Linked DNA regions of Homo sapiens: region 1 is linked to region 2. A link means that fine-mapping ties the variant in region 2 to the expression of a gene that starts in the linked region. Tissue or cell type: whole blood. Region 2 holds a variant in brackets; the other region holds the start of a gene. All regions are shown on one strand. Distances are between the middles of the regions.

The links. PIP is the estimated chance that this variant, and not a neighbour inherited with it, causes the effect.
Region 1: NGLY1 starts here. The variant in region 2 is fine-mapped to the expression of NGLY1 in whole blood (INTERVAL, PIP 0.98). The same link has a PIP of 0.9 or more in fibroblasts and skin.

The regions. Positions count from the first base shown.
Region 1 is chr3:25,780,146-25,788,253 of GRCh38, forward strand. NGLY1 (N-glycanase 1) reads right to left here and starts at 3,298. Exons shown (of 12, transcript NM_018297.4): 1 at 3,115-3,298. The coding sequence starts at 3,245. RefSeq lists enhancers at 1,091-1,260, 2,648-2,727, 2,888-2,937 and a silencer at 3,248-3,487.
Region 2 is chr3:25,901,015-25,909,122 of GRCh38, forward strand. The region is part of intron 1 of LOC124909357 (a long non-coding RNA gene); the gene reads left to right. Among named protein-coding and RNA genes, the nearest start is that of LINC00692, 31 kb to the left of the region's middle. RefSeq lists an enhancer at 5,050-5,715. The variant AG/A (reference allele first, on the strand shown) is at 4,475.

The sequences.
Region 1 (8,108 bases), 120 kb before region 2:
GTGAAATACAAAGAAAATTTTATTCTCAACTCTTTATTCTGTGTATTAGATTAGGGTTTCTCAGTCTCAGCACCATTAACATGTGGGGCCTTTTCTCAGTGGAGTTTCCTTGTGCACTGCAGAACATTCGCATTCCTGGCTTCCATGCTACACTGTCTCACAAGTGAGCCTCTCTTTCTTATCACTTAAGAAAACTGAACTATAAAATAATCCTACATTTATCAAAGCTAGTTTTCGATAAATGGGGCATCTTTTCCTGACACTCAATGTATTTCACAGGGTGATAAACATGTCAGTACCACCAGGATGATATATCCTACTGGTTCAAAACTGCTTGAGCTATTTTAATCTATTCTTTTCCTCACAGCTTTCAGATCTCTACATGCTGGGTCTTTCTCTGGGCTAATTTTCTAGTTTCTTCCTGCTTTCACAATTGTTTAAAAATTCTTATAAAATACACATCAGTTCTCATATAGTTTTTGTTTTGTTTTTTAAAAAACAAAGTGTTGCTCTGTCACCCCGGCTAGAGTGCAATGACGCCATCAAAGCTCATTGCTGCTTAGAACTCCTGGGCTCAACAATCCTCTGCCTCAGCCTCTGAAGTAGCTAGGACTACAGGTGAGCCACCACGCCTGGCTATTTTTTTTTTTTATTAAGAGATGGGGTCTCACTGTGTTGCCCCGGCTGCAATCCTTCTACCTGGGGTGTCCTAAAGCCCTGGTACTACAGGTTGGAGCCACTTCGACTGGCCTTTGTTATTTTGATATATGTTGTTACCATTTAACTATTGATATACAATATAGATTTTCCTCTTTAGTTTCTAGTGAGCATTTTTTTTTTCTTTTTTGAGAAAGGTCTCACTTCGCCATCAAAGCTAGAATGCAGTGGCATGATTATGGGCTCAAGCCATCCTCCCACCTCTGCCCTCCAAGTAGCTGGGACTACAGGTGTCTGCCACCACGCTTGGCTAATTTTTTAATTTTTTTGTAGAGACGGGGTTTAGCCATGTTGCCCAGGCTGGTCTCAAACTCCTAAGCTCAAGCAATCCGCCCACCTTGGCCTCCCACAGTGCTGGGGTTACAGGTGTGAGCCACCGTGCCCAGTGAGCAATTTTATTTTTATATCATCTCTGGACCTCACATTAATCTATTTTTCTCAGTAAAAGTATACTGCAAACAGGCTCCAGCAATGACAGTCACATCCAGTTCCTCAAATTCTTTTTCTTATTAAGTATGTTGAGTAAACTGACCGTGGTTTTGTGTATAGACTGATACCAAAGGCCTGACCCTAAAGCCCTCAAAGACTTAGAGGGCTGTAGGGACATTAGACTTCAAACCCATCATATCCTCTTTCCTATCCTTGGAAAAGCAACGCACAAAGACTTTCTTAAACTCTTAATTTCTCAGCATTATTCCAGTGTGTCCACTATCCTTTGCGCTCATTGTCACACCCCTCATCTTTCAGAATCTTGAAGCTGTGAGGCGGAGGTTGCAGTGAGTCAAGATCGCGCCACTGCACTCCAGCCTCATCAACAAGAGCAAACTCCGTCTCAAAAACGAAAATCAGCAACGAGCCATTAGTAAACATTCATAATGAAGATTATGATGCTAAATGTCATTATTTGCATGCAAAGGTTTCCCCCTCATACTAAACCTCAGCATTTTGGGTTTCACTAGATTTAAAGCAGAAGTGAGGCTTCATTACAAGGCCACCTCTCTTTTCTGACTAGTGGGGTTTTAAATAGCCTGGTGGCTTTCCAGGTGGTAAGTCTCAGCTAATGGGCTCTGGAGAACCCAGCCTATCAGTTCATTTATGGAGTCCCTTGGCATCCTTGTACTGTGAAGAGCTGTAAGGCCTCAAAGAGTAAAAAAGGTGAGTTGAGAAGGTGTCACAGAGCACGAAGGTGGTCCCCACACAGGTCACAATTATGTAGCTGTGAACAGGCCACATGTTGCATCTTTCATAGCATCTGCCACAAAATAAGGGCTCAATATATTTTCCCTTCAATTTACTTTAAAAATCATTACCATTGCCTAAATGAAATATTACTGACATGGATTTTAAAAACTGCACATGTAACTAATGTCTAAAATTGGGTCACGTGAAACCTATAACCTTGAAACTGAGAATTTCCTTTTAGACTTCATGACAATATACCAAACACTTAATGCACCAGGGGCTGAGGGGAACAGAGAACCTAATTAATCACGGTGACCTGATAAATGAGGTAACACCCCTAAAGCAAGTGGCTCTCCTTTAACCTCAGTTCCATTTCCCTACCCCCCCACACCATGTCCCTTCAGATCATTTGATCTGAAGAGTTGAGGTGGGTACTTATTCAAAATGAATAATCAAACTTGCCTCCCAATTCCCAAAATCTGCAAGGTCCCTTAGACCTCTAGAAGTGCAATTTTGCTGACAGGAGAATGAAGGAAATTACTCTCATCCAAGGCGATTACCTCCACGAATTCTTAAAGGGTTATGTTACATAGTAGAATCCAGGTATTAATATAAAAACTGTAACTTCAAAATACTATAATGTTTCAATCAACAAAAGTGGGCAGAAAAAAAATTAAAAATTTTAAAACCCACCACTTCAGAAGCATTATGCTTTAGTACTCGGATAGTCTCAACATGGGAAGAAAACATCACTTTGTCAGTGAGTAACTTCTGATAAGTATGTGGAAATGTAAGCCACTCCGCTCGAAAAATGCACGCAGGGGGAATGACACGCGCGGTGCGGTTACCGTTGTGTCCCGATATCTGAGGCCGTTAAACGACGAGAAGAGCGGCAGTGTCTGAAGCACGCCTTCCTACCTCTCCTCCGCCCGGCCCCGCTTCCGGGACTCCAGTTCACCCGCAGCACCCTGACTGCAGGTGCCAAGTCACAACTGCAAAGAAACTTCCTTTTCTCGAGCGGGGGTGGGACTTGGCCGGGTCCCGAGGCCCCTGGCCGGCGGGCTCGGACGTTAGGAGCAGAACCAGCTCCAGGTCCCGGTCTGTCCGGGCGTCGCTGCCCTCTGAAGCTCAGGCCGGACGCCCCAGTCCCTGGCCGAACAAGGTGCCGCGGCCCACCCACCCCGGTACCCGCCGTCCGACCCCGTTGCCCTGCACCTGAGGATGTTGTCAGCATAGGTGAGCAGCAGCTTGGAGGCCTCCAAAAAGGTCTCCGGGGTGTTCTGGCAGAGCTCAGCCACGGCCGGGGACGCCGAGCCTGAGGAGCTGCCCAATGCCGCCGCCGCCATGCTTGAGCGCCAGCGGGCGCCGCCGCCGCCCCTCGCTCTCCGCGTCCCACACTGAGCAGGCGCCTCAGCGCGCAGCAGCTACCGCAGCCACCGGCAGGGGCGGGGTCCTCGGCCGGCAGGGGCGGGGTCCTCGGCCGGCAGGGGCGGGGTCCTCGGCCGGCAGGGGCGGGGTCCTCGGCCGGCAGGGGCGGGGTCTTCGGCCGGCAGGGGCGGGGTCGGGGGCCTGGGGCGGGGTCGGGGACCGGGGCCAGGAGCGGGGGAGCTCGGCTGGGAGCTACGGCTGCCCCTTCGCGGGGGGCAAGGGGCTGTTCGGAAGAAGGTGGGGGGCCTCGGCCGGCAGGGGCGAGGTGCTTCGACCCAGAGTTGGGGCCTGGTCGTACAGGTTGGGAAGGGGTTCCGCAGGGAGAGGCGGGGCCTGGGCTCCGGGGCTGAGGGGTGTGGGCCTGGAGGAGGGGGATGTCGAGTCCTTTAGGACGGAGGAGCTCGGCTGGAGGGGAGGCCGGCTTTGGTCTAGAGGTATCGGGCGAATGGTGCTGGCACGTGCCTCTCAGAAACCCGGATCCCTTTGCGCTCCGGGGCCAGCCTAATTGATCCAGCTATTAAGGTGGAGAAACCGCATGTACCTCCCTCCTTTCCCCACAAATAAAACCACCTTAGAGCCTTCTCTTCGCAGATTGTCAGGACGTTCTACATAGATGTGGATGAAAGACTACAGAAGGAAGGAGCAACAAACGTCAAAAACAAAACCATGGCTATAAACTCTGCTGGGTTTGTTATATGGATTCTTTTCAGAATTTGGCTAATGACTGAAAATCTAAGTTCCAGCTCAACTAGTATATGATTCCTCTGTAAGGAAGTGTATTTTTAAACCATAGGTTGCGACATAATAATGGGTTGTGGATTCGGTTTACCGCGTGGTGACCAGCGTAAAACACATGCATAATAATTACGCAATATTATAGAATGTCGGGGGCGGGAAGGGAATAAAAATTTGCATCCCACACAGTAAGGGTAAGTAATATTTTGTGACTTGTTTTTTAGGTAGATCATGTGATCAAGGTCTTTTATTCCTCTTAGAAGATGCATCCCTTACTACTTTAATCCAGTCTCTTCCCCACCATGTTCTTGAAAGTGTACTTTACCAGTGGCTTCCTTCTTTGCAGAAATTCCTTTTCAACCTCACGAAGTATTTTTCTTGACTTTATTTCTTAAGATAAGTGATTTGCCTGAATAACCTCTTTTAAATTTCTTGATGTTTCATCTGTTTACTTTTAAGAATTGAAATTTTCTTCCAGAATCTCCGAACAAGACCCTAAGCTATGACATCCAGTTCAATGACTATTCGTCTCCCAAATATACGTACGCTTTTAATAAATATGTAAATCTTTGGACCACCTTCCAAGTATGGTGTGTTCAACAGATAGTAGTATGTTACTACCGTCTGTAACTAAAATTTTCAGGGGCTTAACACAAGAGTAATTTCTTTCTGGCTCATATAACACTTTAATAATGCAGGTGTCATAATGTCAGTGGACCCAGTCTCCTTCCATACCTTAGAACAGGGGTCAAGAAACATTTTCTGTAAAGGGCCACATAGTGTTTTAGGCTTTGTGAGCCATAAGGTCTGTCTCAACTATTTAACTCTGCCTCTGCAGCTGTTGCTCCACAGACAATACTTGAAAATAAATGGGCATGGTTATGTTCTAGTGAAATTTTATTTACAAATCCAGGCAGCCTGCTTGGACAAAAAAAAAAAAAAAAAAAAAAAAGTCACACCTACTTTTAACCACATGAGCCCAGAAATGACACACAGCATTTTCTCTACCATATCATTACTAAGAATGAGGCCTCATCAAGATAAAAGGGGGTATTTCAGTAAGGCCAGATTTACAAAAAATAAAAAAAAAATTTAAAAACACATAAAAAGATAAAAGGGGAGAGTCTGGGAAATGTAGTCTCGTCCAACTACACAATGGATTGGGGGCTTGGGTCTGGAGATATAGCTATCACAAACTTTATTCCTCTTAATTTGGGTTTCTTTTTCCATTGATACATTTATTTATCCTTTACTAATTATATGAGAATAGTATATATTATACAGTACTTGTAACTTTTAAAAATGCAACAGAACTTTTTTTTTTTTTTCAAATAAAATTTTAGGGGCTGGACATGGTGGCTCACGCCTGTAATCCCAATACTTTGGGAGGCCGAGGTAGGTGGATCGCTTGAGCCCAGGAGTTCAAGACCAGCCTGGGCAACATGGCAAGACCCCATCTCTACAAAAAAAAAACAAAAACAAAAACATAGGAAGATTGTCTATATACAAAACACCAAAGTGGAAATGCTCTGGTATTGAAGCAGAGGTGTCAAGTGAAGGGCAGAAAGCTGTCAGCTAAGGCTTTCCCCTGACAGATAGAATGGTCATAGGGTACTTTTGTGGGGGAACAAAATGACTTTTGTTTTTCTCTTCATAATAGTTTGTTTCCTCAACTAAAACGCTATCTCACTGTAAGTTATCATTAGTTTTGTCTTCCCTATTTGATTAAAAGTCTCTTGTGCCATCTGTCTCAGACTGCTTTGCACACAGCAGGTACTGAATAGAGTTGTTGGTTAATCACTCAATGTAGTCACACAATAGTGAATCACTATACAAATTCCTGAAAGACTTCAACTCCTCCCCTTGCTAATGGTTTTTATGGAGGTTAACTTTTTAATATCACCAAACCAATCGTGGGGAAAATTTACAGAGTTCTTTCTTTTTTGTTTTATTAAAGAATAGTGTTAGCCAGGCGTGTTAGTGCACACCTGGAGTCCCAGCTACTTGGGAGGCTGAGAGGCAGGAGAATCGCTTGAACCCAGGAGGCAGAGGTTGCAGTGAGCTGAGGTTGCCCTACTGCACTCCAGCCTGGGTGACAGAGCGGGACTCTACCTCAAAAAAAAAAAAGAATAGCGCCATGATATGTCAACTCTAAAAATGATGTTTTTAATAAAGGTGAAATCCTGGGGAAAAAAAAAATCTTTATTTTGGAACAAAAATAAATAAATAAAAGAACAAGAATTTCAATGCTGATTTAGTACCCATTCTTTGGTTGTTTGAAACAACGATGGGTATAAAAGTTAGGGTAGCTTATTCAGCTTTTCTAAAGGAAATGGAAGAATTAGAATATCTCCAACTTGACTGAAGTGGGGGAAGCAGCCAGGAAAATGAGAGACCAAGTCCCTTTATATAATGGATTCCCTTAATAGCTTTATAAATGGCAATATTCAAAAGAGATTACAGTTACTCAAGAACTTTAACAGAAGTGTTGCTAAAGAGTTATTTGGAAGGACTTAAATTTCAGATGATTTTTTTAAAATGGTGATTTCCATGATTTTATGGACTGTACATTGTTATCACAATATTAATGCTATGGCATTGGTTTTCGCAAAAGTCATTTGGTGAGAAATGCACAAAAAGTGCATGTGTACTATCAAATGTAAGGATAAATGTTGATTTATTCATTCCATAATTCATTCATTCATCATGTATTTATGAAGTGACTACTAGTTGCTCAGCACTGTGAAGGAGACAAGTATGGTCCCTACTTTCATAGAAGTCATAAGTTTAGAGCAGTGGTTGGACAAGCAACAGCAGCATCAGCAGGAAACTTGTCAGAAAAACAAATTCTGAAGCTCCACATTTAAAGGTGGGACCCAGCAATCTGTGTGGTAACAAGCCCTTCAGGTGATTTTGATTAACAGTAAACTTTGAGAACTACTAGTTTAGAGGGAGGAAAATTTCACTGTGGGCTGCAGTTTCAGTGAGGGGGGACAACTTGAACAGAAGCCTTAAATTGAGAGGTTGAGAAGGTGAGAAAGGAGAGGACTTGCTACCTGTGAGAGACTCCCCACCCTCCTTAAATCATGTACAATATCCTAGTAACGTTTCCTTCTCAACATCTCCTGGATCTCTCCTTGCCATTGCCTTCAGAGCCTCGTGTTTCATCCATTCTTAACTTTCTTCCCTGTGTCCATTTCCACATCCTTCCAACCCACCCTGCTCATTTGTGCAATAGTGATCTTTCTAAAGCACCCATCTGATCATGTTGTTCTCCTGGTAAAAAGTTTTCTATGGCTCCCTCTATCCACATTCTAAAGTCAAATGGTGTCAGGAACCAGGCTGGTAAGTTAAATATTTTAAGTGGCTTTGTTCAAGACAAAGAGGAGTAAGAGAGACTCCAGTGAAGGGAATGAGAGAGTTTACCATGTCCTTTCTAGAGGAGTTTAGAATCAATAAAAGAATGTTGCACTCCAAATTATACCATGAAGGCTAGCATATGGTCTCTGAACTACGGGATTAAATCCAAAGTCCTCAGTATGATACCCCAGGCTTTTGTGATCTGGGCCCTGCCTTACTCTCATGCGTTTACTGTTGCTTTGTCCCACACTTCAAATTTGACATGGGCCACATATTTAGCTGTTTGTGGAAGATACCATGACACTTCATTTCTCCAGGCCTTTGTTCTCCTCCTGCCAGGATGCCCTTTCCCACCCAATTTACTAGACAAACATTCATTTCCAAGATGCAGTTCAAGGATCATTTCTCTGAAGCCTTTTCTGACTTTACGAGGTAGCACAGACCTCATTGTCCCTTTTGTGTTATAATAATTCCACTATAGCACCTGTTTCAACAGTTTGCACTTACTTGTTTCTATGGGTGTCTCCCTTTACTAGACCATAAACTTCTTGAAAGCAAGAGCCATACCTCTACTCATTTTTGCATTCAAACTTCAAGCATTGATAGGAAGAAAATGAGTGGTTGTTGAAAATAGCAAAAGCACAGAGATGAGAAAAGTTAGGGTCAATCAAGACATGTATAGTGAG
Region 2 (8,108 bases):
AATCACTTCCCTATTGAACAGGAATTCCTTGGTCAGAGGCTAAATTATTGCCTCCTTTGGTCTCTCATCGCATCTAGCCTATAGCTTCACTGGGGCATGTTTTACTTGCCGTGGTTTTCATCTGTTTACGTCTTCTGTTGCATAGTGATTCTCCTCCACTTCAGAGACTATACATTCTTTATTTTCTTATCTCCAGTGCATCATAGAGTACCTGGCACATGGTAGGTACTTTTTTATATTTGCATAAATGAGTGAAACTAGAAATAAGGGGTGGTCTATTATCTAAGTATAGCTACCCCAAAATACTGGATAAGATGTTTTTTGACTCTACTAATGGGATTATATATGTTTTCACTTGCAAAGAAGCTTTATTTATTGGAAGTATTAGAAATATGATGGTACAAAGTGTAATTTCCAACTGAAATAGGTAGTTTCAAGAATAATGTCCTAGGATGACATGTGGAATGTACTATGGTATTCCCATTGCTGTGCTTTCTGTAGGCAACTTCAGTTCCTTGTTTTTGCAATCATTAGAACTTAACCTTTGTTTTGTACTTTTGTTGTGAAAACCAATTGATTCTCAGCAACAATATTGGAAGCTTCTTTATCCCACCAGGATTTAAGGTAGACTAGAAGATCCAAATCTGCCTTCTTCAAGTGATGCTTGAAGTTTTCACGCATATGGTGGGAAAACAACTGCTTCTCATTAGTTTAGTCTAAAATAAAAGCTGTTTAGTCTTTTGAACATTTTAATGAGTTATTTGCTTGATCGCTTGGGTGAAACATTTCTCTGCAGTTAAGCAAATATATTAGAGGCACGTACAAATCTGTCAAACTTGATGTGTTGACTTTGCTCAGAACTTGGTTATTAATAATTTCTTAATAAGCAGCCCTTTAATCCTCCTGGTTTTGTAGACTGAACCTTTCTGATATCAAAGGATGAAGAGAGAGACATAGTAAACCTTTCTGTAAACATTGAGAGGAAGTTGGTAGGAGGCTCTCTGGCCCTGATGTGGTTTGCAAAATACATCAAAGCCGAGCAGTAAGAAATAATTATAATCAAGAAACTGAAAATGGTGACACAGATATATTTGTCTTTTGGTGGGAATGTTACTCCATCACACCATTTAACAGAATTGTTTGGGAATAGTAGTAAACAGATTTTATTATTAAGAAGAACTAGGAAAATTTTGTCTTTTCACTTTATGACAGGAAGGCAGACCTATAGAGTGGATATTTTCTCTTTTTTCAAAAATTTTACTGTGCTTTTACTGTTATTTGGAATAAACTCACATTCTATAGGTTAAATCACCTACTCTATTTTTAAGGACTGTGAGTTACATATGCATATTTGCTAGTAGGCAAAGTAAATGAAGTTATGATTGTATTACCAAAGTACAAAATTTGCTAAGTAAGATTTGGCTACAGAGAGGATAAGGGATAAAAATAAATATCATCTTGGAATATTTTTAAATGCACAGTGACATTTCAGGAGAAATGTACTTAGTTGCCTATTTTTTGAAAAAGCAAAGATCAGAGAAGTGAAATGTGGGAGTGATTCTATTAATGTTTCTGGTAGATTTTCCTATATTCTTAAAAATCTCAAGTTTCTTTCAGATTCATACACTAATAATTATATAAAGAGGGCAGAGAAAACAGCAATTATTATGATGACTGGATTAAGTACCCTGGCATGAAACAGAGAAAAACAAGCGTATCTGCATATGGGAACATGGCCACATAATGTTTTCAGCAACAGATTTCTATGGAGGATTTTTGGCATGAGTAATAAACATTCATATTGTTGGAATTGCCACATGAGTTATACTGGGGACTATTTTAAGATAAACCGGAACCTGTTAATTATTTCTTGGACTCTATAGTTCTAATTTATGTATTGTAAGATAAGAAGAATGTAAGTTGTTGATGACTTTTCTCTGGAGCATTATTAGTGCAGGTGTTTGTGGTTCTGAAACAATTTGAAAATTAAAAAATTCTGTGTAGCATTTTCAAGTCAGTAGGTGTAGGGTGTATTGATGATTCAAACTAATATATTCTGATTCAATCAATTATAATTGGCAGAAGCAGATTAGAACTCTAAGTAGGATGGGATATTCTTACCATTTTTGACTTCTCTTATCCTCAGAATGTCATGAGGAAAATGTGATAATAATAATAATGCCAATCTCATAGTATGGCTACTGTGAGAATCAGATAAAATTATGTATGTGTAGGGCACTTTGTAAATTACAAGTTACTAAATTGTATCTATACTTATTACCATTTTAAAAACATCGACGTTACTTCTAGCAGACGCTTATGATGCACCGAGCTTCATCCTGTTAGCCCACCTGATTTTAGTGCAGCTTAGGTGGACAGCTCCATGTGAGTTAACAGCATCCCTCATCAAGCACAGGATGTGACCTCTCTCTGCTGCCTTGGAGTGCTTTTTGTGAAAGCGCAGAAGGCTGATCAGTCATATACAGACACAACCTGGAAGCTTGGGGAAGCGAATGCCCTATGAGATAGGCTTGCTCCAAAGGCTGGTGGGAATCAGTGCATAAATGTCTCAGGCTTCTTGTCCTCTGGTGAGACAAATCTGAGATATGGCCCACGCCATTCCCCAGAGGAGCCTCAGTGAGAGTGAGCTGTAGTTGCCCACAGCAATAATCAGCAGATTAACACATGGATTGTACTGTCTTTTCCCTACTCCCTCACTTCTGCTTTCTGGGGCTGCCTCTCTTCAAACCATCTGCACCCAGCCTTTGTCTCAAGCTTTGCTCTCTGGAGGTATTACTCTAGCCTAACTCCCTCTAGACATATTAGCATAGTGCTAAAGAAACAAAAAAACATCAAACTACAGCAAAAATGAGATATTTCAGTAAGCACCCTATGGAGAAAAATTCCTGGCAATGAGTTTTACTACCATACTGAAGGGATTAGGGAACTGCTGTGATAATAGGTACTGTACTCAGGACTTTCAGAACTTCAGAGCTGTTGTTTTCAGTATATTTCAGACCTTTAATTACAGAAGAAAGTCTTGAATGTGGGGAGTGGGAACTCAAATCAGTTCTGTTTGAGTCATTGAATAACACTGTATAAAGTCTGCTGTTATAAAGCACTGTGAAAGGGGCGACCTAAGGAATGAAGAACAAAACATCAAAGGAACAAGAAAGAAGGAAGAATTAAGAATCGTGTGGATAATTGAGTCCCCAAACTTTGCCTGTTTTAGGCTTCCTTCCAATCCAGCATTTATCTTGGGACTGCCGGGTCTTATGTTCCATGAGTGCTGGGAACTCTGTGTATTGTTCCCTCTGTGTCACCTCACACAGCACATGGGACACAGCAGCTGCAGATAAGCAAATTTGGAATAAATGAATAAATTAACTGATTGAATTTCCCTGCTTAGGAGTGTGATGTGAGGGAAAGCCTTAGACCAGAAGGTGGCAGAAGGGGTTCAAGCCTAGGATCTGTCATTAACCTGACACATCAGCTTGCCAGCTCAACAGTCCTGCTGGTGCTGGTTATCCCAACACCGAAACAAAGGCCTTTAATTGGTTTCAGAGTTTTAAGAAAACTTGTTAAGCAACCGGACTTTGAGAGCAAGCAGAAATGGGTGTGAATCAAGACATCCCAAATGGGTGACCTTGTGAAAGTTAGTTTACATTTCTAATCCTAAAGTTTTGAGTTTGTCAAAGGGATACAATGATATCTTCCTCTATGGATTGTTAGGATGCTAACATTTAACATAGATAAAACTTTTCATATATAGTAGTCAATAATGTCTACTATTCCCTGCTATCTTCTTTTATTATTGGATTTCTGTGAGTCTCCATTTATCTGACAAAGAACCCTAGACTGGAGGAAATAGAAGAAAAAGAGTAGGACTGAGTAATTGATAGCTTGGGAAAAACCCTTCCAATATCAAAGAACTATTTATTTTTGTTGTTATATATCCAAATATTATAGATATATTATCAGGAAAGTTGGCATGCATACTAGTAATTTATTTTCTAGAAAAACTAGTATTTTTAAACTTTCTTAAAACTCAGACGTTTTATTTTTGGTCTTCCAGATTTCTATTGCCTCTTTGTTTTTTCATCTTCTCTTTGTTTTCACGGGTATCCTGCTTCCTTCTGTCAGGGGCTTTCTTCTCCTCCTCTTTTTCCCTGAGGACTTGGAGTCTTGCTGCGAGTTGGTAGTACTGTCTTGAGGACTCTGTTCTTGCACCGACCTTTTCTGCCAGTTCCTGAGCTCTCCAGCCCCTTTCATTAGAAGGAGCCAAGCATTCATTTGTTCACTGAGCATTTTATTTTTGTAGCAACTTACTGAATCTTCCAGTTCAGTGGATGCATTCCAGGCCAGAGGCTGCCTAAAGTATTTTTCAACAAATACTGTCCTCCAAACTCTCCTTCCTGGGTGTGAACTTAAAGATTGTTGGATGGGAATGGGCATGCTTGGCAACAGAATGCAG[AG/A]GGGAAAACTGGTGAGTTTGGTGAGCTGGAAGCCTGGCTTTACCTGGCTAATATGCCTCAACTGGTGAAGACCCTTTGGTGTTAGAAATCATTCCTCCCCTCCTTCCAAATTAACCCCCAACAAAGAAACAACATTTTTGCTTAGAAGAGTTACTTGTTTCTGTGTCATACTGCAAAAATAGCTGCCATTCTTCATCTCTTTCTATACCCTTCCCTTTGCAATGCGATCCCTTCTCTTTGCAGCTTCTCCCATAAAAAGGTACATTCTGTTTCTCTAAAACTTGAACCTAGGCTGGACTTATGACTTTCCTTGACAAATAGAATGCAGAGAAGTAACTAAGTGTGATTTAGAAGCCTGGCCTCAGGAGGCCGTGTGGTTTCTACTCTTTCTTTGGGAATGCTGCCAGCCATCATGTGAACAAGCCTGGGCAGTCTGATGGAGAATGGGATACCATGTGGGCCAGCAAGGAGTCAACCCAGTTTCCCAGGCAAGGCTTCAGACATGTGAAAGAGCTTAGCCAAGATTAGCCAAGCCTGGGCAAATGAGCAGAACCATCTAGATGGCCTAGAGATTCTTGAGTCCTAATACAGGATTGTTTTAAACCATTAAGTTTTGAGATGATTTGTTATGCAGAAAAATTGAACTGAATTTAGGTTTTACAAACCCACTAATATACACTATGTTAAATTGATAATTTAGATTCCAGGACGGCAATGACAAGCATGGATAATAATAAATACCAGAGCAGAGATGGGGCTAGAGGGCAAAGTTCCAGTATGCAAGGATGTTTCTTCAATGTTGCCTTTATCTGATCTCATTGATGGGCAATTCTTTGAGGACTCAGGCTCTTTAGTGGCTTTCATAGTATAAAGCTTTTGTAATGTCATTATAATGTCATCAAGTACTTTTCCAGCTCAGGAGGTCTCAAACTCTAGGGCTCCACATTCCTTTTCTAGGAGTTTTGTCTGTCCTGGGGTATTGTGAAAGATGGGCACACAGGACAAATCAGGTGATGACTGAACTAATCTTGGGGCATTGCTGTTGGATGAGCAATGTTTATGAGAAGTTTATTGAAAATGTTCTGTTTATACTTCCTATATTACATTAAATTGCATGACTTCAAGGAATTATTTTTCAAAAAATCATTTTTTTTTGTTTCCAAGTAACTAAAGATGTAAGTAAACGATGAAAAGTCAGTTTAACTTTTGTTAACTCAGCATTTAATCTTGTGCTCATTGGCTTACACATGACAACAAAAGGTCTTTAATGCTGAGTCTAAAAATAATTTAAACGAACATGATGTTAGTAATTTCTTTCTGGAAATTCCTTTTTTTCACTTAGCAAATTATTTTCTCTCTACAGAAAGCGAATGCTATATCCAAGGCTTCCTCTCATTTAAAAATTTTGAAGGGAGCTTTTTCCTTAATTAGCTAGAAACATCCAGATTTCATTGGCTTTATCCAGAGGCTGTAAGTCCTCATCACTAGTCAAACTCAAAATATTCAGAACGGAATTTGGTAAACTCAAGAAGAAGTAATCTCTAGATATTTGAAGATATTTCTATATTTATATGTTTCTCCTTCAGGAAATTTTAGGACTACATTAATATTTTTTCATCTAAGGTGACCAGCTTTTCCATTTTTTAATAGGATTGTGAAATAGTCCTTACTTAAGAAGATGTTTGAGATTCAGGAGAGATAAAAACTAGATAGAGAAAAACACTGTTGTGAATCATATGCTTTCGAAAAGGAAAATGTTCAAATTATCACAGTGTTACATGCTGTTTGGCTGGTTGGCTGTGCCAAGATGAGATTGGAACTTTGCCTGTCAGATCCCTTGGCTTCACTGAGCAGAGTTTTGTACCAATACTGCAGTAAAATTCTTGCTATTTATTTAAGACACAAATCAACATAGAAATATATACTCTAAGCCTAGAGAATCGAGAGAAAACTAGTCTTGACACAAAATTAGTAACACTTAAATTTATTTAATTCAAAGTCCATGTTAAAGCTCCTTCCAGAAAGAGGCGTATAGAGACATTGCCCAGTGATTATTATATGTCAAGAGTCTGATGCTCAGATTGGGCAAAACCAAGAGCCTCTTTTTCTCTCTACCTCTTTGCTGAATGTCTTCTTAAACTGGCTTATTTTTTCCCAGTATTATACATTATAGCTATGTATTATACCTATAAAATTAGATGATCAGGTAATGTAAGGCTTGCCTTTTTGAGGCTGTATTTGTATCCGAAGACAGAGAACAGATCATAGAAAGTCTGTTTATCATTGAGTTTATCTCAGGTGGCCACAGAGACATTTTTATGGAAAATGATTATTCTCTATTCCCAAACTTTATTTTGGATTCTGCTCCCAGTCCCCATTCACTGTTTCCCAGGTCTAATAAGTTTCCTTCTAAATTTGCCTTGAACTGATTGGGAATCTGTGAAGCCCACGGAGGTATACTCAGAACTCAGTGTGATGTGAGAAAGTGCATTTTTCCAGGAAGAAAAGCCAAATCTCTTAGGAGATTCTCACACAAATACATGCTTCTCCTCTGAAGTTGGAGCACCATCACTTAAATTGGCCATTGTGATTAAAGATGCTCCATTTGCTATGACTTCTTTCCCAGATAAATTGGCATAAATGGCTTAGCTGTCTAACAGCTTATAATCACCACCCATAACACAGTTATCAAAAAAGTTCTAAACAGTATGGTATGACCCAAACTATAATAGAAGAGTGAATAAAGAGATTCATGTGACCTATGGTGGAAATTTTTGAAAGATGTCACACTGAATCTTTATAAGCCCAGTTAAGAGCTAGAACATTTTAGGCATTCTTGACAGTATTATAAACAAATTCTACACAATTTTTAGCTAATAAATGAATTTATCATCTCATTAAAAATAATAGTGATAGATGTGTTTAGAATTAGATCAGTGGCTTAACTATGTTAGAGCTCTAGGTTGGCATCTCCATGATTCTCTTGTTCTACCCTCATGGTTGTAAAATGGCTACCACATCTCCAGGCATAACGTCACATAAATGACTTTAACTAAAGGCAAATGTAGGGTGAGAGCCAAAATAGTGAATATGATCTGTCCTCATGTCACTCTCATCTTTTATCAGGGAAGAGAAAAAATCTTTCTGGAACAACTTTCTTTACAATCTCCCCAGATAACTATTCTTTATTCCTTAAGGGCCAAAACTTTGATGCATAGCCATTACTAGAAACAGGAGGTCTTGGAAAGTGAGTGACTAGATTTTTCAGACTTTGCAACAGGAGGTGAGTGATGGTTAAGTGGGTCAGGAATGGCTGCGAGGTAGCAACAATCGTGTCTCTGCTATGATTGCCAAAATTTAAAAAATCAAGAGATTTCATGTGAAAATCTGAATTACACCATCTTTGGAAAAATGAGAAAAATCTGAAAATGCTGGCTGTGCTTGTGTGAAAAAGATAAGCCATTGCTCAGTAGCAGTTGCTTTATTAGGATAGGGAAGGAAAATTGATTTTGCCACAGGCCTCATTATTGTCCATTTTCTTCCCAACACTGGGACTCTGTTATTTGCCATTCCTCATTGTGTTTGCCTTGTTGTTTTTGTTAGATGAGGGCTCTTTCTTTTGTTCATCATACT